3 linked regions of the Homo sapiens genome follow. The protein of the gene in region 1 interacts with the protein of each later gene in a pairwise test. Each region holds a gene or a part of one and is shown in the gene's direction. Other genes may lie near its edges. The genes, in order: NINL, KAT7 and L3MBTL4.

Region 1 (7,154 bases):
GATGACAGATTGAATTGATCTGTATTGGCAAATAAAAGTGGGATGTGTGTTTATGTAAAGTTCAGGTGCAATAAAAATTAGAGGATAACTCTTTTTTGTAGAATGAGAAAATAGCAAGCCTTCTCCAAGGAACTTGGACTTCAGATTTTTTCTTTTTAATGTAGAGCCGGGAGTCTTGCCCAGGGTGGTCTCCAACTCCTGGGCTGAAGTGATCCACCTGCCTCAGCCTCCCAAAATGCTGGGATTACAGGTATGAGCCACCACACCTGACCTCAGATAACATTTAACTCCATCAAATTGGAAAGAAAGCACTTTATAGAGGAATAGTTAGGACTTAAGCAAAAAGTTTTGTTTTTTGTTTGTTTGTTTGTTTGTTTTTGATATGGAGTCTCGCTCTGTCGCCAGGCTGGAGTGCAGTGGCGCGATCTCGGCTCACTGCTACCTCCACCTCCCAGGTTCAAGTGATTCCCCTGCCTCAGCCTCCTGAGTAGCTGGGATTATAGGAGTACACCACCATGCCCAGCTAATTTTTTTATTTTAGTAGAGACGGGGTTTCACCATGTTGGCCAGGATGGTCTCCATCTCCTGACCTCGTGATCCACCCCGCTCGGCCTCCCAAGGTGCTGGGATTACAGGCGTGAGCCACCACGCCTGGCCGGACTTGAGCAAAATTTAATTGAGCAGTTTATATTAACTTCAATGGAAACTTTTTCGCTAACTCATACTTATCCCATATGTTGTGATTTATAGGACTGCTCTAAGGTGGGTGAATTGATATGGTCATTTGCTAAGAGCATGTTGTAAGTCTTTTAATGTTTGGGTATCCTTTGAACATTTGGTGATGGAAAATAGAATAACAAGAATGGCAAAGTTCCAACAGTGTCTGTAGCTTCCCCTTTTACAGTGAGTTCAAGTTCCTTGGAGAAGGCTTGCTATTTTCTCATTCTACAAAAAAGAGTTATCCGCTAATTTTTATTGCACCTGAACTTTACATAAACACACATATCCCACTTTTATTTGCCAATACAGATCAATTCAATCTGTCATCATTTAAACCACTAATGACTCTTTTTAAGTTTTTTAGAAGATGGCACATGTGGCATTTGAGACTTAGAGCATGTGAGCGGGGCTCTGTGAGCACATTCTTTCTATGGTGGACATTTACCTTTGGATTTTTTTTTTTTTTAAACTGAGAAGGAGTCTCGCTCTGTCACCCAGGTTGGAGTGCAGTGGCACAATCTTGGCTCACTGCAATCTCTGCCTCCCGGGTTCAAGCGATTCTCTTGTCTCAGCTTCCTGAGTAGCTGGGATTATATGTGCCTGACCACGCTCAGCTAATTTTTGTATTTTTAGTAGAGACAGAGTTTCGCCATGTTGGCCAGGCTGGTCTCAAACTCCTGACCTCAAATGATCCACCTGCCTTGGCTTCCCAAAGCGATGATGGGATTGCGGGCGTGAGCCACTGCACCCAGCCTACTTTTGGATCTTGCCATGAGCAGGTAGCTACTAGATAGCTTTCCTCTTTCCTGGCACAAGACAGATTTGGAAGCAGGAAGCAAAAACAGGAGCAGTGTCTTGGCCTCACACCTGAACTGGCATGGCTTCCTAGCTGCAGGTAATAGCGTCCTCTGCCCTGGAAGGCATTTCCAGCGCTGTGGCCACTTTGCTGTTCCATTCCTTGGTTATTGTGTAAGTAGTTAAGCCGCGGTGGCTGTAACTGGAATCTAGGTTTGAGTTTAGCTTAGTCCTTGGCTTCAAGTGCAGATTAGGAATTCAGGCCCAAGGCCAAGACATTTGGTTACTCACAAGCTGAGGCCAAAAGTTTGGGTCATACTCTACCTGGAGCTATTTGGAGGCAGGCTTTCCTTCTCCCACCTTGGGGCAACTTTGAGCCTCCTGGATTCTGATTATTGTTGTTTGTGAATGGACAGACAATTTTCTGGGACAGAGGAGTCTTTTAGAGCATGGCTTGTATTTTCATCCTTTTTTGACCTAGGTTCAAGCATGCATCTGGCGCTGCCTGGTTGTACTTCCCTTTCTGAACCCGATTGTCTTTCCTTGGACTTCAGAAAGATAATGGAGCCTTCCATCATCCTCCAAGCGAGGTGACCCGTTTCCCTCAAGACTGCTGTATAGTCTCCCTGGAGTCGAAGTCATTTGTTAGTTTCTGAAACAGGAGAGCTCTCTAGGTACCTCTGAAGCAATCAAGTTTGAGAACCTCTAGGATATACCAATTTTTGTGCATTGATTGTTACTTTGTATCTCATAAGGGGCAATCATTACATTTTTTTTTTTTTTTTAGGTGGAGTCTCACTCTGTTGCCCAGGCTGGAGTGCCATGGCGCAATCTTGGCTCACGGCAACCTCTGCCTGCTGGGTTCAAGCAATTCTCCTGTCTTAGCCTCCTGAGTAGCTGGGATTATAGGTGTCCACCTCCACGCCCAACTAATTTTTGTATTTTTTAGTAGAGACGGGGTTTCACCACGTTGTCTACGCTGGTCTCGAACTCCTGACCTCAGGTGATCCACCCGCCTCGGCCTCCCAAAGTGCTGGGATTACAGGCTTGAGCCACCATGCCCAGCCCACACATCTTCTTATAACCTTATTTTTGGATCTGCTTTGTTGAGTAAAGTAACAATTTTGGTTTGTTGGAGTTTCTAAGAGTGGTCAGAGACCTGAGGGGCAATCACTCTTCAAAATCTCTCAGTTTTTAAGCCTCTGGTAAAGAATTTTACATTTGTAGAGTATATCAGTTAGGATATTTTAGCCACTAGTGTTGGAAAACCCAACTCAGTCTGGCTTAAATAAACAGGGAGTTCACCGAAGACCTCAGGATGGGCTGCTCCATTGTTGAAGTGGCCCTGAGGGACGCAGGTGGCTTCTCTTCTGCACACAGCCTCTCACATCCATGGAGAGAGGGAGCTTGGCTTCTGTGGCTTCTGTGCCTCTCTGAAGAATGAGGAGTGACAGCTGGTGCCCCCAGCCAGGGTAGTGGAGTCCTGGGCCATTTGAACCAGTCACCAGGAGGCCTCCCCCGGCTGTCTCCAGAGGCAGGGTGGCGTGGGGGTGTGGGGACAGGAAGGACAGGCTTTTGGGTGCCTGGTCCGTGGGGGCTGTGTGAGCCTCACCATAAGGTAGCGTGTCACCTGTGCCCAGTCCCCGTGCATGACTTGTGCACTGGTTGTGGCTGCCAGAAATGGAGCTCAGGTCTCCTGGTGTTTTGTTTTTAAATTTTGAATGAGCATTCAGTAGGTGCCAGGCACTGTTCTCAGTGTTTTTGTTAAATTCTTTCACGGAGTACTCATAGCAGGAGGCTGAGCCGGGGTGTACTGTTGCCCCCATCTCACACACAGAGAGTGCGAGGGTCAGAGAGGATAATAACATACTCAGGGTCACATGGAGGTCAGGGGTGCTCCGGTCTGGAGAGGCTCTGCAAATTCCATGTCCCCTGCTGTGCCTCCCAACACAGTGGGGTTTCCAACATCCCTTACTGCCTCCGAGGGACTATATCATTTCTTTACCTTAACAAGAAGATGAGGTATTTTCAGTGCTAGAGAAAAGCTGTGACTTATGTGATCCTGTCTACACATGCTGGTTGAGAAGCAGTATGAGGACTGTTAGCTCAAAGTCCCATTTTTATTTTATTTATTTATGTTTTAGAGACAGGGTTTCACTGTGTTGCCTGGCTTGACTTGAACTCCTGGGTTCAAGCATTCTCCCACCTCAGCCTCCCAAGTAGCTGGGACTACAGGCATGTGCATGACTCCATTTAATTTAATTTAATTTAATTTTGCTTGAGCTTTACTGCTTGATCAAATTCCTTTTTTTTTTTTTTTTTTTGGAGATGGAGTCTCGCTCTGTCACCCAGGCTAGAGTGGTAGTGGGCGATCTCCGCTCACTGCAAGCTCCACCTCCCAGGTTCACGCCATTCTCCTGCCTCAGCCTCCTGAGTAGCTGGGACTACATGCGCCCGCCACCATGCCCGGCTAATTTTTTCTATTTTTAGTAGAGACGGGGTTTCACCGTGTTAGCCAGGATGGTCTCGGTCTCCTGACCTCATGATCCACCTGCCTCAGCCTCCCAAAGTGCTGGGATTACAGGTATGAACCACTGCGCCCAGCTAATCAAATTCCATTTTTAAGCAAGAGTATTAAGGACTTAATGAATTGTGCTTTGCTTTTTGTGGCTTTGTGTGCGTGTGTGCGCCCATGGAAATAACATTTCAGGGCCGGGCGAGGTGGCTTATACCTGTAATCGCAGCACTTTGGGAGATTGAGGCGGGCAGATCACTTGAGGTCAGGAATTTGAGACCAGCCTGACCAACATGGTGAATCCCCGTCTCTACCAAAAATAGAAAAATTAGCCAGGTGTGGTGGGGCACACCTGTAATCCCAGCTACGCCAGAGGCTGACATGGAAGAATCGCTTGATCCTGGGAGGCGGAGGTTGCAGTGAGCCAAGATTGCGCTACTGCACTCCATGGGCGCCAGAGTGAGATTCCGTCTAAAAAAAAAAAAAATCACGCCTGTAATCCCAGCACTTTGGGAGGCCGAGGCAGGCAGATCACCTGAGGTTGAGAGTTCAAGACCAGCCTGACCAACGTGGAAAAACCCCATCTCTACTAAAAATACAAAATTAGCCAGGTGTGGTGGTACATGCCTGTAATCCCAGCTACTCCATAGGCTGAGGCAGGAGAATCTCTTGAACCTGCGAGGTGGAGATTGCAGTGAGCCGAGATCGCGCCATTGCATTCCAGCCTGGGCAACGAGAGTGAAACTCCATCTCAAAAAAAAAAAAAAGAAAAGAAAAGAAAATATTTCAGAAAAATGAGTCTGTTCCTGGGACTAGGACAGTAGTAAGCCCCGAGCTTCTGCTGGCCCCACACAAAGAGGGGTGGTGGGCTCCCCCGCCAGGATGGACCTCACAGGAGCTCTATTCACAAAGAGGACCTCCAGGTTCCCCTTAGAGTCATGGGTGGTGTCAGACCCTAAACATGAGAACCAGCATCAGTCAATATAGTGCAATATTCACTAACTTGGAGTTTTCGTTTCAAGGGCATAGGAATGTAGTAAACAGCTATTAATTATTTAAAAATCAACAGGGAGAGTCTGCTCGGTGCAGATTTTGAGTAGGTTGTCCCAACCCCAGGGAGAGCTCCTTGTATCTGGAAGGCCTCTGCCTGTCCTGTACTCAAGTGACCTGAGGAGGGATGTGCTGGACTGTCCGGCCACGTGGCCTTGGGACTTCCAGCCATGCTCGGGAGGAGGACAAAACCAGGCAGGCAGAAGTGGGTAGCGTGCCAGGTCTCCAACACAGGAGAGGCGGCAGGGCCTTGAACAGACTTGGGGACGCGTGTCTCCATGTGGACCAGTGAGTAAAACTGAGTACCCACGGTCCTGGGATGACCAGCAGGGACTCCAGAGGGCGGGCTGCAGCCCGGCCAGTTAGCTCCCTGCTTCAGGCAACGTTGTCACTGCTCTCCAAGGCCCCAAATGAAGGTAAGTGACAGGCTGAGATTTTCCCCAACTCTGGGTAGGGACAGAAACGTGGATGCCCAATTTCGGAACCCCACAATCTACATTAATGGCCTGTACTGATTTCTGGTACGGTTCCTCAGGAAACTGTGTCAAGCAGGATGTTTGCAGGGGCAGGTCTGAAGTGGACACAGTCCACAGCCTGCATAGTTCAAGACCAGCCAGGCCTTGCTCTGTGGCAAAAGTTTTAAACTGTACTTGATAGTGTACACTGTTGCACAGCTTTAAAGCGAAGCAATTCTTGATACATTTTAAATTCTTACTGAATTTTTATTATTTCCAACTGTGCACATAAAGTAAGACTCTTATCATTGTAGACTTTCACCACTTAAAATTCTCAGGCTGGCACGGTGGCACATGCATGTAATCCCAGAACTTTGGGAGGCTGAGGTGAGAGGATCTCTTGAGTTCAGGAGTTCGAGACCAACCTGGGCAATGTACTGAAACCCCATCTCTACCAAAAAAAAATGAAAAATTAGCTAGGCACAGTGGCATGTGCCTGTGGTTCAAGCTACTTGAGAAGCTGAGGTAGGAGGATCACTTGAGCACGGGAAGTGGAGGCTACAGTGAGTGGGGATGCACCACCGCACTCCAGCCTGGGTAACAGAGCAAGATCTTGTCTCAAAAAAGTAAAATAAAATAAAAATGAATAAACTTCTCATAATTCAAACTCACATAAAGGTGACTACCCTGCTGCAGTCACCATGCTAACCAAGCGATTGCAGTTACTGTCACCAGTTATGAGACATCTGTGCCCCCCATGAGATGTGCCAAGGACACACCTGACCCAGGTGTTCCTGCCACCCTTGAATCTAATTGTGCAGACACCAGACAGACTCTGGGACATTCTACATAACGCCCTGCCTGTGTCTACTCCAAAGACTTCAAAGTTCAGAAACAGAGACTGAGAAAATGGTCTGGTTTAAAGGGACAGGAAAACCGTGTACAGTGCTTGTCTCTGAATTGGAAACTGGACTGGGGTGAAAAAGATAGCTGTAAAGGACATTGTTGGCACCATGGACAGAATTTGATCTGAATGGTGGATTGTATAAATGTCAAATTTCCCTAGTTTGTTGTACTGTGACTGTCTCCTTGAGCTTAGTGAATACATTTTGAACTATTTAGGGATACAGGGGCACAAAGTCTGATACCCGATTTCAAATGGAGAAGGAGAGGAGCAGGGGTAGATAGATGATATGGAGGGAGGGAGGAAGTGAGGGAGAGAAAATGACAAAATGGTTGTGGTAAAGGGGAAAAGTGGAAACAGGTGGTGAAGCCAGCCGAGTGAGGGAGTATTGGAGAATTTTTTGTACTATTCTTACAAGTTTTTTTTTTTGTTGTTTTGTGTTTTTTTTGAGACTGAGTACTTGCTCTGTCGCCCAGGCTGGATGGCGCGATCTCGGCTCACTGCAACCTTTGCCTCCTGGGTTCCAACAATTCTCCTGCCTCAGCCTCCTGAGTAACTGGGATTACAGGCCCACGCCACCATGCCCAGCTAATTTTTTACTTTTTAGTAGAGACGGGGTTTCACCATGTTGGCCGAGCTGGTCTCGAATTCCTGACCTCATGATCCATCCACCTTGCCCTCCCAAAGTGCTGGGATTACAGGCGCAAGCCACCAC
Region 2 (7,737 bases), on another chromosome or scaffold:
CTTTCCTAGCTGAGTCAACAACTGGCAGTGGGGTGAGAAACATTCAATTTGGTGCCACCCCAATTACTAAGCCCTTTTGGGTGCCAGTCAGCAAGGGAGAAGCTGGAGATGCTGTGGCCATCCAGGCAAGGCTCCTAACCTCTGGAAGAAGCAAACAATGAACAACTACATTTTGTATTTGAAATATGGTACCTATAATTTTACTGTCAAGGAAACACTTTAAAGGACATCAAGGGATCTTTTAGGCAGCTTACAAAACTGAGGAGGCAAGAGACTGATACAAGTAAGGAAATAACACAAGCACATACACACAAAAGATTGCCCCCACTCCCAGTGCCTATTTCAGTCTCTCCTTGTCTCTGGCTAAGGCTATTTCAGCAGCCTTCTAACTGGTCTCCTGCCTTGGGTCTCCCTCCTACTCTGATCAGTGCCCTTCACAGCTGCCAGAAAGAGATTGCTAAAATGCATGTCTGACTGGCGGCCTCCTCTGCTTAAGGACTTTCAGAAATTGCCTACCACTTCCAGTTCAGTCTCCACAGAAGGGTGCTGAACACTCTGCATGAACTGGTTCCCAAAACCATGCCTCTTATGTACCCTCCCCGGCACCCATAGATAATGCTCCTCCACACCTCTCTACTATTGCACATTCTGTTTTCTTTGCATGGAAAACCCTTATATTGTCCTTGTTTACTGGCAAACATTCATCCTGTGAAATTCCACTCTTGCTTCACGTCTTTTATGAATCCTTTCCTAAACTTTCCAGATGAAACACTCTACCTCCTCCTCTGTAGCACTTCTGAACCTTGCTTATCTCCCTATTTTCCCATGTAATACTCTACAGTGTTTTGTAAGTGTGTGCTCACTGGCTTGTCTTCCCTACTGGATTCTAAGCTCCTTTAGGGGAAAGTTGGTGTTTTGTCCATGGGGTATAACTCAGTGCCTGGTACCTGGGTGATTAATGCCTGGGTAATCACTCTGTATGTCTTCAGTTAAAGTGGTTGAACAGAGGTTGAACAGAGTTAAAGAGGTTGAACAGATAAAAGCAAACAATCACTGAGACCATGTAAATATATAGTCACTAACATTAGAATGTTATAGCCATGATTAGAGTGACTGGAAATATAAATAACAATAGCCATTTATTGAGCAATTACTCCATGTCAGGAACTGTGCAAAGAGCTTTACAACACTCATCTTCTTTATTCCTTACAACCTTGTGAGGTGGCTATTAATGTCCCCACATCACAGGTGAGAAAACTGAGACACAAACAAATTTAAAACTTGTCCAAGGCCGGGCATGGCTCATGCCTGTAATCCCAGTGCTTTGGGAGGCTCAGATGGGAGGATGGCTTGAGGCCAGGAGTTCGAGACTAGTCTGGGCAATGTAGCAAGACCTCATCTCTACAAATAATTTAAAAATTAGCCAGGCATGGTGGTGTGTACCTGTAGTCCTAGCTACTCGGGAGGCTGACGTGGGAGGATCGCTTGGCCCAGGAGATCAAGGTTGCAGTGAGCTATGATTGTGCCACTGCACTCCAGACTGGGTGACAAGAGTGAGACACTGTCTCTTAAAAAACAAAAAACAAAAACAAAAACTTGTCCAAGAGTAATGCAGGTAGGAAGCAGCAGAGCGGAGATTAAAATTCAGATCTGACATCAAAGCCCTGTACTGGACACTAGTACAGCTGATGATACAATAAACATGATTTATCTATGTTTCTATTATCTGTTTGGGAAGGGAAATGAACAGAATTATCTACCAAATTGTACAAGGAAAATAACAAATCCAGCAGTTAAGTGCAAAATAACATATCATTACGCCCTACTACCTTACAAAGAATGAATTGGAAAAGATTTTCTGAAAAAATAAAATTTTATTGAGGGTTAGGAGATGCATCCAGGCAGGAAGAAAAGCCTGAGAAAATAGAAAGGCAAGGAGAACTGTCGAGAGTGTCAACGTGAAGTCTGGTGATTGAGGATAGCCAGGGGGCAACCAGTCAGAGGCATTGAAATCAACATCAGTTCCTGCTTGGAAAGCTAATTGTGTTGTGATGAACATGACTCTCAAAGTAAATATTATATTTGGTTTTTTAAAAAAAGAAGAAGAAATAAGCTTTTAAGATCCTCCCCTTCCCCATTCTAAATATACCTGGCTGGTCTACTTTCAAGTACTATACACATTTTTTTCCTTATGATCATGTTTCTATCCTACTGGTGTTAGTTTTTTCATCTTTCTGCCAGAGTGTACACTTTCCAAGGACAAGAACCATATCTAAATGAAACTGTAAACTCTTTAGTGTCAGCTGCAGTCTTAGGGAATCTAGCATAAGAAATTAACTAACGTCGAACATCTGTAATGCTGGTATTTGTGTGACGGATGCAAGTCAGGATAAGATCTTATTCTAAAACACTAATTTCCAGGGAGGATAACTTCACCATCTCTGAGCGCTATACATTCAGAGACTGTAAAACAGTAATGATATTCTTACTGAGTAGCAAGCATTTACTGTGGGAAGAACGAGGTTTGAGCACCATTGGAAAGGATGGTATGAGCCAGGCGCAGTGGCTCACACCTGTAATCCCAGCACTTTGGGAGGCTGAGGCGGGTGGATCACCTGAGGTCAGGAGTTCAAGACCAACCTGACCAACATGGAGAAACACTGTCTCTACTAAAAATACAAAAAGTAGCCACATGTGGTGGCGGGCGCCTGTAATCTCAGCTACTCGGGAGGTTGAGGCAGGAGAATCGCCTGAACCCGGGAGGCGGAGGCTGCGGTGAGCCGAGCTCGTGCCATTGCCCTCCAGCCTGGCAACAAGAGCAAAACCCTGTCTCAGAAAAAAAAAAAAAAAAAGAAAGGCTGGTATGGCTGGGAGTGGTGGCTCACACCTTAATCCCAGCACTCTGGAAGGCCGAGACAGTAGTTCAGCTCAGTAGGTCGAGACCAGCCTGGGCAGCATGGTGAAACTCTGTCTCTACAAAAAATACAAAAATTAGCCAGGTGTGGTGGCACACGCCTGCAGTCCCAGCTACTCGGGAGGCTGAGGCAAGAGAATCCCTTGAGCCCACGAGGTGGAGCTTGCAGTGAACTGACATCCAGCCATTGCACTCCAGCCTGGGCAACACAGCAAGACTCTGTCTTGAAAGAAAAAAAAAGAAGAGAGAGAAAAAAAGTAGGATGGTATGAAATAACTGAGATATGCTCTTAATGTAAGAGATCCTTACCACCAGTTGGGGAGCCAGAACATTCAAATGTAACCTCAGGAACATATCCGTGAGTGCAAAATAACAGAGTAATGTATGAAATTAAATGCTTAAGTGGTGAGGGGCTACATGAAATTAAATGCTTAAGTGGTGAGAAGTAATGTGAACCATTTTCAAATAAGTTCTTACGTGCAGTTCAACCTAAGTAGGTTATCAAAGGTATTTATACTAAGCACTAAAAGCTAAGTATTAAATACTAAAAGCTGCCTGTGTCAACACTGGCCCAGGACATCCCCAAGGAGAGTGCTGGCTAAAGGTCTGGAACTTTAAATCTTTAGAGTTCTTTACTTAGCACATCAATCAGATATTTACCTTCTGCTTCTTTGTTCTTTAGCCCTGCTCCTGGGGGAAATCTCCATCTTAACGGGGCCTCAGTTTGAAATTGGGGTTCGGGATCCTAACTTAATGACTGAGCGTGCCTGGGTTCCACCCAGTCGCAATTGGTCAAGACTTGGTCCTCTCAAGGCCTTTCCTCCGGAGAGGTTAAATCCTCAACGCCTGCTCTCCACTTTCCAGCCTTTTCTTAAGGCTCTTCTTTCAGCCTAGTATCTGTGACCAACTTCTCCTTCCTAGGCCCTCTCATTATTATTTAAATGTCCATTCTTTTGGGGGCTTCAACTTCACTAAAAACATTCCTTCCTCTTCCTCCGCCTCGTAACTCTCTGCTCAAGCATCTGGATGCCAGAGGTCATTTGAGCTAAATGGGGTTCAAAGCTTTTCTGACTCTGGTACTGCATTCCCCACTTTCAAATCACATTTTTCACCCCAGGGCCCCCAGTGGTCTCAAACCCAAACACAGTGCGGTTAGGAAGTGGGCACTCGCCACAGAGCTAAATTGGGAATTATTTGACCTGCAGCTTCTGGAGAATGGTTTTGCCTCCTCCCCGCGACATCAACTAACTCACTTGCTGTTAGCTAAGGGCAAGGACAATGTCTCCTCTACCAGACAGGAAACTTGATGGCGGACGCTATCCGTTAGTTCCTTTTTCAATTCCCCATTCCCACCCCTTCGAGACCACGATGTTTCTTAAAATACAAAGTTTCTTTTACAAAACATCCCTCCGCAACTTTGAGTTTATATAATAAACGGAAACGTCCTTTAAACAATCAGGCTACGAAGGGGTTAAATCTAATCTCAGCAACCTGATGGATTCTGGGGGGTTTCCTTCCTCGACTCTAGAAATTAAAACGAAATTTTGCCCAAGGTAAAGATGAGAACCGTTTACATCAACTGTCAGGCTTCTGCCCCAAACAAGAATGGCTACCCACGCCCACAAACAGAGCCACTCACGTAACTAAAAATGGTTGGCTCCGGGTTCCACCACTGGAGTCACTTTCTGCCCAACTTCAAAATGGCGCCCACTAGCTTCACCAAAAGGATCGAACTTCCCAGCACCCTCTCTGGCCCGTAACGTCAGGTGACGCGAGACCCAGCCGGAAGTGAAGGAAAAAGCGCTTCAGCCCGCGGCGCCTGCGCAGAACGCTCCAGACGCTGAGAGGCAGGAGGCACTAGGGATCGTCCGCAGGATTGGGACTGATACAGAGGCCGCCACGGAGCCCGCCGGAGCCACCGTTCCTGCTGCTGCCGCCGCTGCCCGAATCGGAACCGTCGGGCCGCAGCCGCCGGCAATGCCGCGAAGGAAGGTGAGAAACGGGAGAGGAGGGATGGCGGGTTTCTAAGGACAGTCGATTGAGCACCGTGACGCAGTTGGCCACGCCTCACAGTGCTTGGGTCCCAACTTTCCGCTCCCCCGAACCTTGTTCAGCTACCCTCTCTTCTGTCCATACCCAACAGAAAAATGTGGGCCCGACCCTGGCCTCGGCCTATGCTTGCAACTATTCCCGCCCTCTGCTTGCCTGGATCGGAGGCGTTCTTATTAATTGGTCGCTGAAACGTCTGGAAGCATATTGATTGGCTGGTGACGCCGCCTGTTTGGGCTCAACGGTCACCTCCCCGCGTGCGGGGGCGGTGTCTGGCCCCGGCCCCAGCGCTCTCCCACTGGCTGGAGAGAACGATCCCTCCTCTCCTGATTGGTCGAGGTTGGCAGTCTGTCCTGTGGGGGCGCGGCTTAGGCGGACCTCGATTGGGTGGCCCGAATCCCCGCCTTTCCGAGCGGGGACGCTGATAGGTGCAGAGGCGGGGTTTTGGAGGCCTCGTTACCTTCCAGGTGAGGGGCACAACAAAGCAGAAGACTGGGTGGTGGGAAGCCAGCGCCCACTCGCAGGGGATCCCTCTCAGGCCAGTTGCCTCTTTCCTTATTTGCTAGTTCGACAGCGCCTAGAAAATGCAGTTGGTAAAAACTAAAAACTTCTAGAATTAGAAGGCACTTAGAAGATCACCCAGGAATGGCCCCGTCGTTTCTTCTTACAGCTGAACTAACGGAGGCCCATGGAGTGCCGCAAGCCACTCAGGCAGTGGCAGATCCAGAATATAGAACAAATCTAACTCAATTCAACAAATGTCTATTGACTACTTTCTGCGCGGTGGTTGCTGTGGATTCAGAAATTAATTAGATGTGATCCCTGGCTTAAGGGTGTCACAGCCCGATAGGAGAAAACAGACATGAATAATCTTAGAAGGATCTAGTAAGTTCTCAGCTTGGAGGTGTATACAAGGTGTTGCTGGAAGGAAGTGAAGGAGCAGTTAAGTCTGCCCTGGAGTACAATGGGAGATATATTGGTAAAAGCCACAGAGAAGAGCTGAGTTCCAGGATCAAGCCAGGAAGGAATAAGTCTCACGTCAAGGCTTTAAATATCTCGGTAATTAGACTATAATGGTGACTTTTAAGATTCCCCCTTCATTTCAGCCGTTTTCTGTGATTCTTGCTCATTTCCTGGCAGGTTACCCTTAAGATACTTGGAAAACTGGGTGGTATTCTTGCTCATATCAATAGAAATCTTTCTCTTCACAGCGGCTTTTCAGGTTGAAAATGTACACTTTTTAATGTCTCCTAAAATGACCTCAGCTGGTGGGTGGTATGTATGTGTTTTTTTGTTTGTTTGTTTTTGAGACGAGGTTTTGCTCTTGTTGCCCAGGTCGGAGTGCGATGGCGTGATGTTGGCTCACTGCAACCTCCGCCTCCCGGGTTCAAGCGATTCTCCTGCCTCAGTCTCTCTAGTAGCTGGGATTACAGGCGGATTCCATGACGCCCAGCTAATTTTTGTATGTTTAATAGAGACGGGATTTCACCATGTTGGTCAGGGTGGTTTCGAACTCCTGACCTCAGGTGATCCACCCGCCTCGGCCTCCCAAAGTACTGGGATTACAGGCATGAGCCACCACGCCCGGCCGGTGGTATGTATGTAAAGGCTCACCAAATGCAGGAATAATATTGGTGCCTTGAAATAGGGCCACAGTCCTCTTTCTTAATTTCCCAAATACCGGGAGTTACTTGAAAATGTACATTTTTTTAGTAACCTGTTTGGCGGCAAACCTGTCTTAATCTGTCCTGAGGCTACTTATGGTTTTTGTGTGTCTCATTTAGTGTGACTGTTTATATTTTTTGCTGCAGAAATACTATTATGTTTTGTTATTGGGTGGTATTTGCAGGATACATGCAAAGTACTCCCCTTCTAAAAATCCAAAACAATTACAAATTCTAAACACAACTGGCCCTCAGGGTTTTGAATAAATAATTGGGACTTACAGTGTGAATCTTTGTATTGTTTTCAGTAAATATTTTTTCCTTTCTGGTTTTGTAAAGGGTATAGTGTTAGTGCTTAATTGATAAAAGTTATCTTTATGGCTAAGAAAGAACTCCTCAGGAGGATAATAATTGACAAATCCTTGCTCATTGAAAAGATGGTTTTGAAAACAACTGTTTTTGAATACCCATGAGTCTTCATGTGCAAGCTGCCTTTTTGGAAGATAGATGGCTTTCATGTGGAGAAACGTCAAGGATAGATGGCATACGCACTAACAATTTTCATCTTTTTCTGCTTAAATTCTTTTGGGATTAGAGTTGTGGTCCATGATATTTTGAGATAGTGTATGGTTTTTAAAAAATGTGATAGCTTTTCATGGAGACATTGAACAAAAGCTACTCTAAGTTAAATGAGGTCCAGCACCAACGATTTTCTCACTACAGTGGACCTTTTTTTGTGATATTGATCTCCAAATGGTCTTGGTTAATACTTAGTACTAATACAGTAAGAATTAATTCTCTTCATGGCCGGGTGTGGTGGCTCACGTCTGTAATCCCAGCACTTTGGGAGGCCAAGGCGGGTGGATCACCTGAGGTCAGGTGTTCAAGACCAGCCTGGCCAACATAGTGAAACCCCGTCTCTACTAAAAATACAAAAATTAGCTGGGCATGGTGGCGGGCGCCTGTAGTCCCAGCTACTCGGGAGGCTGAGGCAGGAGAATCACTTGAACCCGGGAGGCGGAGGTTGCAGTGAGCCACGATTGCGCCCTTGCACTCCAGCCTGGGCAATGAGAGCGAATGAAACGGAAGCTCTTCATTTATTTAACAAAA
Region 3 (8,066 bases), on another chromosome or scaffold:
TTCCAAGTCTTTGCTATCGTGAATAATGCCGCAATAAACATACGTGTGCATGTGTCTTTATAGCAACATGATTTATAGTCCTTTGGGTATATACCCAGTAATGGGATGGCTGGGTCAAATGGTATTTCCAGTTCTAGATCCCTGAGGAATCGTCACACTGACTTCCACAATGGTTGAACTAGTTTACAGTCCCACCAACAGTGTAAAAGTGTTCCTATTTCTCCACATCCTCTCCAGCACCTGTTGTTTCCTGACTTTTTAATGATTGCCATTCTAACTGGTGTGAGATGGTATCTCATTGTGGTTTTGATTTGCATTTCTCTGATGGCCAGTGATGATGAGCATTTTTTCATGTGTTTTTTGGCTGCATAAATGTCTTCTTTTGAGAAGTGTCTGTTCATGTCCTTTGCCCACTTTTTGATGGGGTTGTTTGTTTTTTTCTTGTAAATTTGTTGGAGTTCATTGTAGATTCTGGATATTAGCCGTTTGTCAGATAAGTAGGTTGCGAAAATTTTCTCCCATTTTGTAGGTTGCCTGTTCACTCTGGTGGTAGTTTCTTTTGCTGTGCAGAAGCTCTTTAGTTTAATTAGATCCCATTTGTCAATTTTGTCTTTTGTTGCCATTGCTTTTGGTGTTTTAGACATGAAGTCCTTGCCCATGCCTATTAAACTCCACTTTTATATGTATTGGGAAACCAAAAAATTTGTGTGATTTCCTTCATGCTATATTCATTTTATTGTGGTGGTCTGGAACCAGACTGGTAATATTTCCGAGGTATGTCTGTATTATACTACCTGCTATTTTTAAGAGAATTTGTGTCTAGCTACAGTTAATGGGGGCATATTGCTATTCAAGAATTCCCATCATCAAATTTTCAGGTTTTCTTCTTCCAGATCTTTGACTTTGAGATAGCATGGTTGTACCATCAATAACTATGAAAATAGGATTAAAGAGACTGCTATTTTTCCTTCTGGAGTTTTCATGCCTTTCTTTAAATGCCATTAGCTTATTCGGTATTGGTTGTAGTGGGAAGTGAAGCTTTTTTTTTTTTTATTGACAAGAGGATTCTTATCTTGTTCAGTTTATACAGACTCTAAGCATCATCAGAAAAATTATGTCTATGTTGGATTTTTAAAAATTCAAGGAAGTAGACCTGAAGGGAGTATTTTTAAGCTACTTTTTGATAACTTTGTTCAACTAAAAGAAAGCACAAATGTACAAGTAAGTAGATTTCTATATAGATTTTAAGTCATTTGTTCAAAATCACATAATGTGCATATTATCTTATTTATAAAGCTTTATGATATCATTTATTTAAAATTGGTTTTAGACTGGGCATGGTGGCTCATGTCTGTAATCTCAATACTTTGGGAGGCCAAGGCCGGAGGGTGGCTTGAGGCCAGGATTTCAAGACCAGCCTGGGCAAAACAGTAAGACTCTATCTCTACCAAAGTAAATAAATAAATAAAATTATTTTTAATTATTCAATATAATTTACACTTCTTTCTGAACCAGTATTTACATTTAAATAGTATGCTATGCAATTATTTATACCTCGACCCACTAAAGGAAGCTTAATATTGGACCATCCATGTAGGAAAACACAACTGTAACATAGAAAATTATTAACAGTGGCATTAACATGAAAATAAACTTGATGATAATAGTTGTTGAAGATAGTGACTAATGAAATATTTTTGGTTGCTGTGGAAAATTTGCTTGTCCAAGCAAGTATAGAATTCTGTTAAGATAACTTCTCCTCAGTTATACCAAAGCATATAAAGAAATTCACTCTGTGTTAAATTCTCCCAAATGGTCATATTCAAAATATATGCTAAGAAACAATCTCAAGTCTTAAAAACATATTAAACCCCATCTCTACAAATAGTTTAAAAATTAGCCAGGCATAGTGCTGTACACCTGTGGTCCCAGCTACCCAGGAGGCTGAGGCAGGAGGATCACCTGAGCCCAGAGGTCAAGGCTGCAGTGAGCTGTGGTGGCACCAGTGCACTCCAGCCTGGGTGATAAAGCGAGACCTTGTCTCAAAAAAACACAGAAAAAACCCACACTGCTACCAAGAGCCAATCCTGCTATTGATCAAATAATAAAGCAATGTAATTTAATCCTACTTAGAAAAGAAATATAGGCCAGGCCTTGTGGCTCATGACTGTAATGCCAGCACTTTGGGAGGTTAAGCGGGGAGGATTGCTTGACCCCAGCAATTTGAGACCAGCCTAGGCAATACAGTGAGACCTCCATCGCTACAAAAAAATTTAAAAAATTAGCCAGAAGTGGTGGCACATGCCTGTGGTCCCAGCTTCTCTGGAGGCTGAGGTGGGAGGATCAGTTGAGCTTGGGAGGTGGGGGCTACAGTGAGCCATGATCATACCACTGCACTCTAGCCTGGGTGACAGAGCAAGATCCTGTCTCAAAAAAGAAAAGTAAAGAAAAGAAACATACACAACCAGCCAGAAAAATGTAAACAAGTTTAGCGAAGTTTTTAAAATGGAGAGTTCCTTGGATAAAACCAGTCACTATCTTAGCAGGTGGAAAGTTTCATTTTCATTGACAATAGATGGACACATTATAGGACTGCTGTGCCTGTTATGTTTTGATGACCTCCAGAAAGGGGTTCTCTGTATCATGCCATCAGAAATTTCTATCTTAACAATAAACCATCCTTGTCTATCTGGTCAACTTTGCATTGAGAGTTGGTTGGATTCAACTGAATTATAAAAGTAAAATGCCTAGCAACTACCAATGCTATAAACCCCTTTGCTCATGATGGATCATTAGCAAAGTTATAAAAATCAACAATATGGCTATTTCATTTTAATCTGCAGCCGTTCAGATAAAAGGGATTTACTACAACAGCTTTCAAAAATTTTGTAAGAAGTGTACTAATGCGTTCCTGCTTATATTTCCATAAAATTTGAATAACAGTGTAGTTTAAGACAGATGTCAGCTTCTCTGAACAGAATCATATGTTGTCAGCACTATGCACCTATGCACTTACATTTAAGTAGCTGTAGATGAGGTTTCCTGCCTGTTTCAACTTGTTTCATTGGTGTATCCTTTTCCTTATGTAAACCCAGCCCCTGAAAACAGTGTGTCTGCTTTCATAAACTTAAACCAAATATAGTCAATAAACATGTTATAAAAACAATTGTTTCCCCCCAAGAAGTGAAGATAAGCTGATGTAAATTCACTTTATTTGGATTTCAATCCAGCTTTCTTCTTTGATTTCATATATTATAACATCAATATTCACTTTTCTGAAGGGCTCCTGGAACCAGAAGTGCACTTAACTCTTTCTGTGCTGGGGACATTTTGATATCTCTATTACTAATACCTAGAATCTCCAATGATAAATAAATACCTCTGGGATGGACTGGGGATACACTGCAATAATTGAAGCACTTTATCCTTCACCAAAAATGGTATCCGTGTTCCTGTGAGTAGCAGGGAGGTGGAACTCTCACCTGCTGAGTCCCGTTCTAATTTCATCCAATCTGGTGAACAAGTATCCAACCAAAGGTGGTACCTGCAGGCATGCCCATTGTCACAGTAATGCAACACTGTAAGTCCTTAGCACAATGTTAAAATTGGTTGGAACTGAGTTTCAAATGTTTTCCTCTCGCTACTGAGGTCTTCTACTTCTTTCTTTTTCTCTTTGTCTCTAATATCTTTTTCTTTTTGTTTTTCTTTTTCTTCTTCTTTTTTTTTTTTTTGAGTTGGAGTTTCGCTCTGTTGCCCAGGCTGGAGTGCAGTGGTACTATCTCAGCTCACTGGAGCCTCTGCCTCCCAGGTTCAAGCGATTCTAGTGTCTCAGCCTCCCGAGTAGTTGAGATTACAGGCGCCCGCCACCACACCCAGCTAATTTCGTATTTTTAGTAGAGACAGGGTTTCACCATGTTGGCCAGGCTGGTCTCGAACTCCTGACCTCAAGTGATCCGCCCTCTTCGGCCTCCCAAAGTGCTGGGATTACAGATGTGAGCCGCCATACCTGGCTAATATATTTTTCTTAACTGACTAGAGCACAGAACACAAATCGTGTGTTTGCACTTACAAATTTCTATGATCATTGTTCCTAGTTTAAAAACTTCATTAGCAAAGGGGTTTATATTTCTCTTTTCAGTAAGGACACGAAATTATGTTTCAACAATGCCCAGTCTCACCTAAAAAGCAAGTTTTCATTCTCTGTTTATGGTAGCCCACGACAAACCAAAAAGATCATTTTGGATGGTATCATTGTTAATCCTGCTAAATGATTCAATTTCCTGCTGAAAGCAACAAACTAATACTTATTTAGTACCTACTATTTATTATTTGCATACTAGGGTTTATACACAAGGCGTCCTATGAAAGAACATTTCATTCAAAAGTCACAACATATAGTCTTCAATTATCAGCTACCTTTATTTGTAAGCCAAAATAAATGATTTAATACAGTCCTCCCAAACTGGGAGACAATGCTTTGAGAAAGGCCAAAGCTAGCCAGTAAGGCCATAAGTTCCATGAGGGCAGGATCTACCCAGCTCCTGTTTCCTGCTCAATTCCAAGCAGTTAGAACAGGGTCAGTAAACACTGCTTGCCACTTGGAAAGAGTATTCTTTTATTTGGAAATGGTATCCAGGTACTCGTGAGTAGCAAAGTCAAGAGCAGGAAAGGGGAGTGGGGGAGGTTGCAAAATCGGAGCGAGCAGCAGGACCGAGAGGGATCCGGAGGAGAGAGCCTTCAGACGGTGAACCCCAAGAGCTGGGATGAAGCATGGGTGAGCTACTGGGACTTCGCTGCCAGGGAGCAAGCTGGCAGGCAGGAAGTAGCCAAGATTTGGGGGAATCCTTCCCAGGGAACGAATACAGAGAAGGACGCATCTGAAAATTCCGCCGCAGCCACCTCCCTCCCATGGGAAAGCCCCGACCTCGGCGGGCCCAGCGCCACCCGGCTCCCCGGGGTGTGGAACACTGAGCGAGGCAGGTGCGGCGGGAGCATGCGCGCGGGGCGGGCAGGGGGCGGCTCCCGCGCCCCCACCCCGCGCGTGCACCCTCGCGCCCCTCCCGCCGGGCACCGCGGGGCAGCGGCGCCGCAGCCTGGGCTGGCGGAACCTCGCGCTCCGACTCGCCCCCCGCCTGTAGCTCGGTCGGCGTTGCGGGCAGGCGCCGCTCCGCTGGGGGTAAGAAGGACGCCGCCGCCCGCGTGGGATGGTCGCGAGCCCGCGTGGGTGCCCACGGCCGCCGCCGCGCGGGGTGGCCCCATCCCCGGGCAGGTAGAGGGGCCTGCACGACTCCCGCGGCGAGGGCCGGGCCGGTGGGGGCGGTGGCGGTTGGGGATAGCCCCGGTCCCGGCCCAGGCTCTTTCTCTTTCTCTTTCGCCGCCGGGGCGCGCGCCGGGCTCCCCGCGAGAGGCGCTGCCTCACTTGTCGCCTACTTTGGACGGGCGCGGCCGCCGCAGAGCCCGGCGCCTCGGTCAGCCGCGAGGGCAGGGTCGGGGTGCCAGGCGCGGCTACCTGGGCGCCCTGGAGCCAGCGCAGCCTGGGACCGGGGGAGCGGGACGGGACGGGACTCCTGAGGGCCCCCAGGCAGTCCTCCGGCCATCGAGCGCCCGGCGGTGGGCATTTGGCTTTTGTTTCCTCTGGGGCTAACGCCCCCGTCTGCCCGCGTGTCCCCCTCAGCCGACAAGTGTCGTGTGCCCGGACGGGCGAGCGCTGCCTCCCTCCACCCGCTTTCTGCCCTTGTCTTCCTCTGCGAGTTCTGCCCAGCCTCGGGAGCGGGAGCCCAGGGAGTGCGCGCAGGGCGGGCGGGCGCCTGGCCAGCCTGGGACGGCGGCTCTCAGGCTCCTGCCACCGCCTGGAACTGCGGGGGGCGCGCCGGCCACAGTCGCCCTCGCCTGCTCTCCGGGCCTTCTTGGGCCCGCTTGGTCCCAGGTGGACGCGAGTCGAGCTGGGCACACCTGGGCCAGCGCCGCACTTACCTGCGGGATTGGTGAGAGCGTTTTCGCGAGGTCGCAAATTCCGGGTGGGTATTGTCCCCTGCTTTTGATCTCCCTTAGTCACTGGTTAAAGTGCGAAGTGTGCTTTATCTTACATATGCCTTTAGAGGGACATTCTTAATGCGCCAATGCCCCGAGGTGGAACTAAATAAAGGGAAGGCCTGGTCATTGTTACTGTTGAGACTGCTGTACTTAACAGTCAGAGGAAGGCAGCTGGTCACCACGACCCACTCGGCCATTCCCATGCTGAAGACTCGCTCTCACTTCACACTTGTTTGGACTCCACTATGACTTGCTGGTGGCCCATCTCCTGGATCCTTCTGTTGGAGCTGTTCTAGAAGATGCTTGTGGCAGGCTCCAGTTTCAGTCCTTGGCTGAAATAAGTGTAGTGTGGCTCTTCGGTTTTCTAATCTATTCCACCTAAAAAGGTTAAGGTGACAAACAGGTGGTGGGTACAGTAGAGTTGTTTTTGGCCCTTGGTAATATTAAAAACTTGGAATGCATTCCTTATATTACTACAGAATTAGGAGAAACGGTTGAAAGAGGAGAGGTTTTTTTCTTGGAGTATCCAAAGGGATTGGATTCGACTACACTGACTTGGTGTGTAATGGTTGAGTAGGAAGGAAGATGAACATAAAACTGCTATTAATTATGCTCTTAGATGTGAGGCAACATTGAGGATGTATTGCATGTAACCCTTGACTGCAGAATCACTTAGCACTTTGCTGTACAATATTGGGGTCACAAGAAATGTTCAGCTTGGTTAACCTCTGCAGTGTGCTCTCACTCAGTTTCCAAAGAAAGGGTATTGGTGGGAAGGTGATCTGGTGAAGACAGAGGTAATGAAAGTGAAGGAACTGTGTTAACTTTCACTTTTTAAACATTTTATTTTTATTTTTTAGAGATAGGGTCTCACTCTGTCACCCAGGCTGAAGTGCAGTGGTACCATCATGGCTCACTGCAGCCTTAACCTCCTGGGCTCAAAGGATCCCGCCTCAGCCTATTGACTGGGAGGGTAGCTGTGCACCACCATGCCTGGCTAATTTTCTAATTTTTTTTTTTTTGTAGAGACGGAAACTCATTTAACTTTCACTTTAAAGAGAAGTAAGCTTGCATATTTTAAAGTTCTCATAAGAATCTTAGGTGCTCTGTAACATCTGTATAACTTCATTACAGTACCTGTGTGGTTTATATCTTAAACGACACTTCTTACTCCTTTTTGGTGGTAATAAGCCTCCTTTGCTTGGCATGGGACTTGGCACGTGGGTAAGTGCATGCTCAACAAATACTCGTAGGACCGAGTCCGTATGTGAGCAGACAACTGCTGAGCAGAGGCAGGAGGTGATAAAAGCAACAGTGAGGGAGATCAGGCTGACTCTGAAGGAAGATTTGCTGATGGAAAGCCCTCGAGTTCTTCCTATGAAGAAAAGGCCAACCTGAAAGCCACTTCCAGGAGGCTGCGTAGGAAGCACCAGCACCCAGTCTGACCAAGGAAGCAGAAGCTTCAATCCCTCCTCCCCCCATCACTCCTTCAAGTGGGTTAAGTTTTCTGTTCTCCAGAGAGCCGAAGGAGGGTCTGAAAATCGCCATTAGATAAGTGTTCATTCTTTCAGTTAATTATTATAATTAAGAAAGAATGCTGCTGCTGGTGAAGTGGGGGAGTGAGCAGGAGAGGTAGGTTTGGTGGGCTGGAGGCAGGGTGGAAAGGATAAATTCCATTTATACAACACTGGATTGAGAAAACCAAAGACTGCACGTTCTCACTTACAAGTGGGAACAAAATGATAAGCACACATGGACACATAAAGGGGAACAACATACACTGGGACCTATCGAAGGATGGGAGGAGGGAGGGGATCAGGAAGAATAACTAATGGATACTAGGCTTAATACCTGGGTGATGAAATAATCTGTACAACAAACCCCCAGGAAACAAGTTTACCTATGTAACCAACCTGCACACGTACCCTAACTGAAAAGAAAAGTTAAAACAATGCATTTATCAAATTACTCTACTAAAATATTATTTTAGTAATGCTTATATCATGTATTAATATATTATAGGAAATATATTT

What was found.
Region 2: the proteins of NINL (region 1) and KAT7 interact in a two-hybrid assay, tested with the Homo sapiens proteins (2 studies listed by BioGRID and IntAct).
Region 3: the proteins of NINL (region 1) and L3MBTL4 interact in binary tests that used the Homo sapiens proteins (3 or more experiments, as listed by UniProt).

What each region holds. Positions count from the first base shown.
Region 1 is NC_000020.11:25,575,479-25,582,632, reverse strand, and holds part of NINL (ninein-like protein), read left to right. Parts: intron 1-7,154. UniProt on the Homo sapiens protein: Involved in the microtubule organization in interphase cells. Overexpression induces the fragmentation of the Golgi, and causes lysosomes to disperse toward the cell periphery; it also interferes with mitotic spindle assembly.
Region 2 is NC_000017.11:49,783,944-49,791,680, forward strand, and holds the start of KAT7 (histone acetyltransferase KAT7), read left to right. Parts: upstream 1-4,737; 5' UTR 4,738-4,891; coding exon 4,892-4,906; intron 4,907-5,119; exon of another isoform or gene 5,120-5,167; intron 5,168-7,737. UniProt on the Homo sapiens protein: Catalytic subunit of histone acetyltransferase HBO1 complexes, which specifically mediate acetylation of histone H3 at 'Lys-14' (H3K14ac), thereby regulating various processes, such as gene transcription, protein ubiquitination, immune regulation, stem cell pluripotent and self-renewal maintenance and embryonic development.
Region 3 is NC_000018.10:6,411,911-6,419,976, reverse strand, and holds the start of L3MBTL4 (lethal(3)malignant brain tumor-like protein 4), read left to right. Parts: upstream 1-5,065; 5' UTR 5,066-5,176; exon of another isoform or gene 5,177-5,269; intron 5,270-5,360; exon of another isoform or gene 5,361-6,017; intron 6,018-8,066. UniProt on the Homo sapiens protein: Putative Polycomb group (PcG) protein. PcG proteins maintain the transcriptionally repressive state of genes, probably via a modification of chromatin, rendering it heritably changed in its expressibility.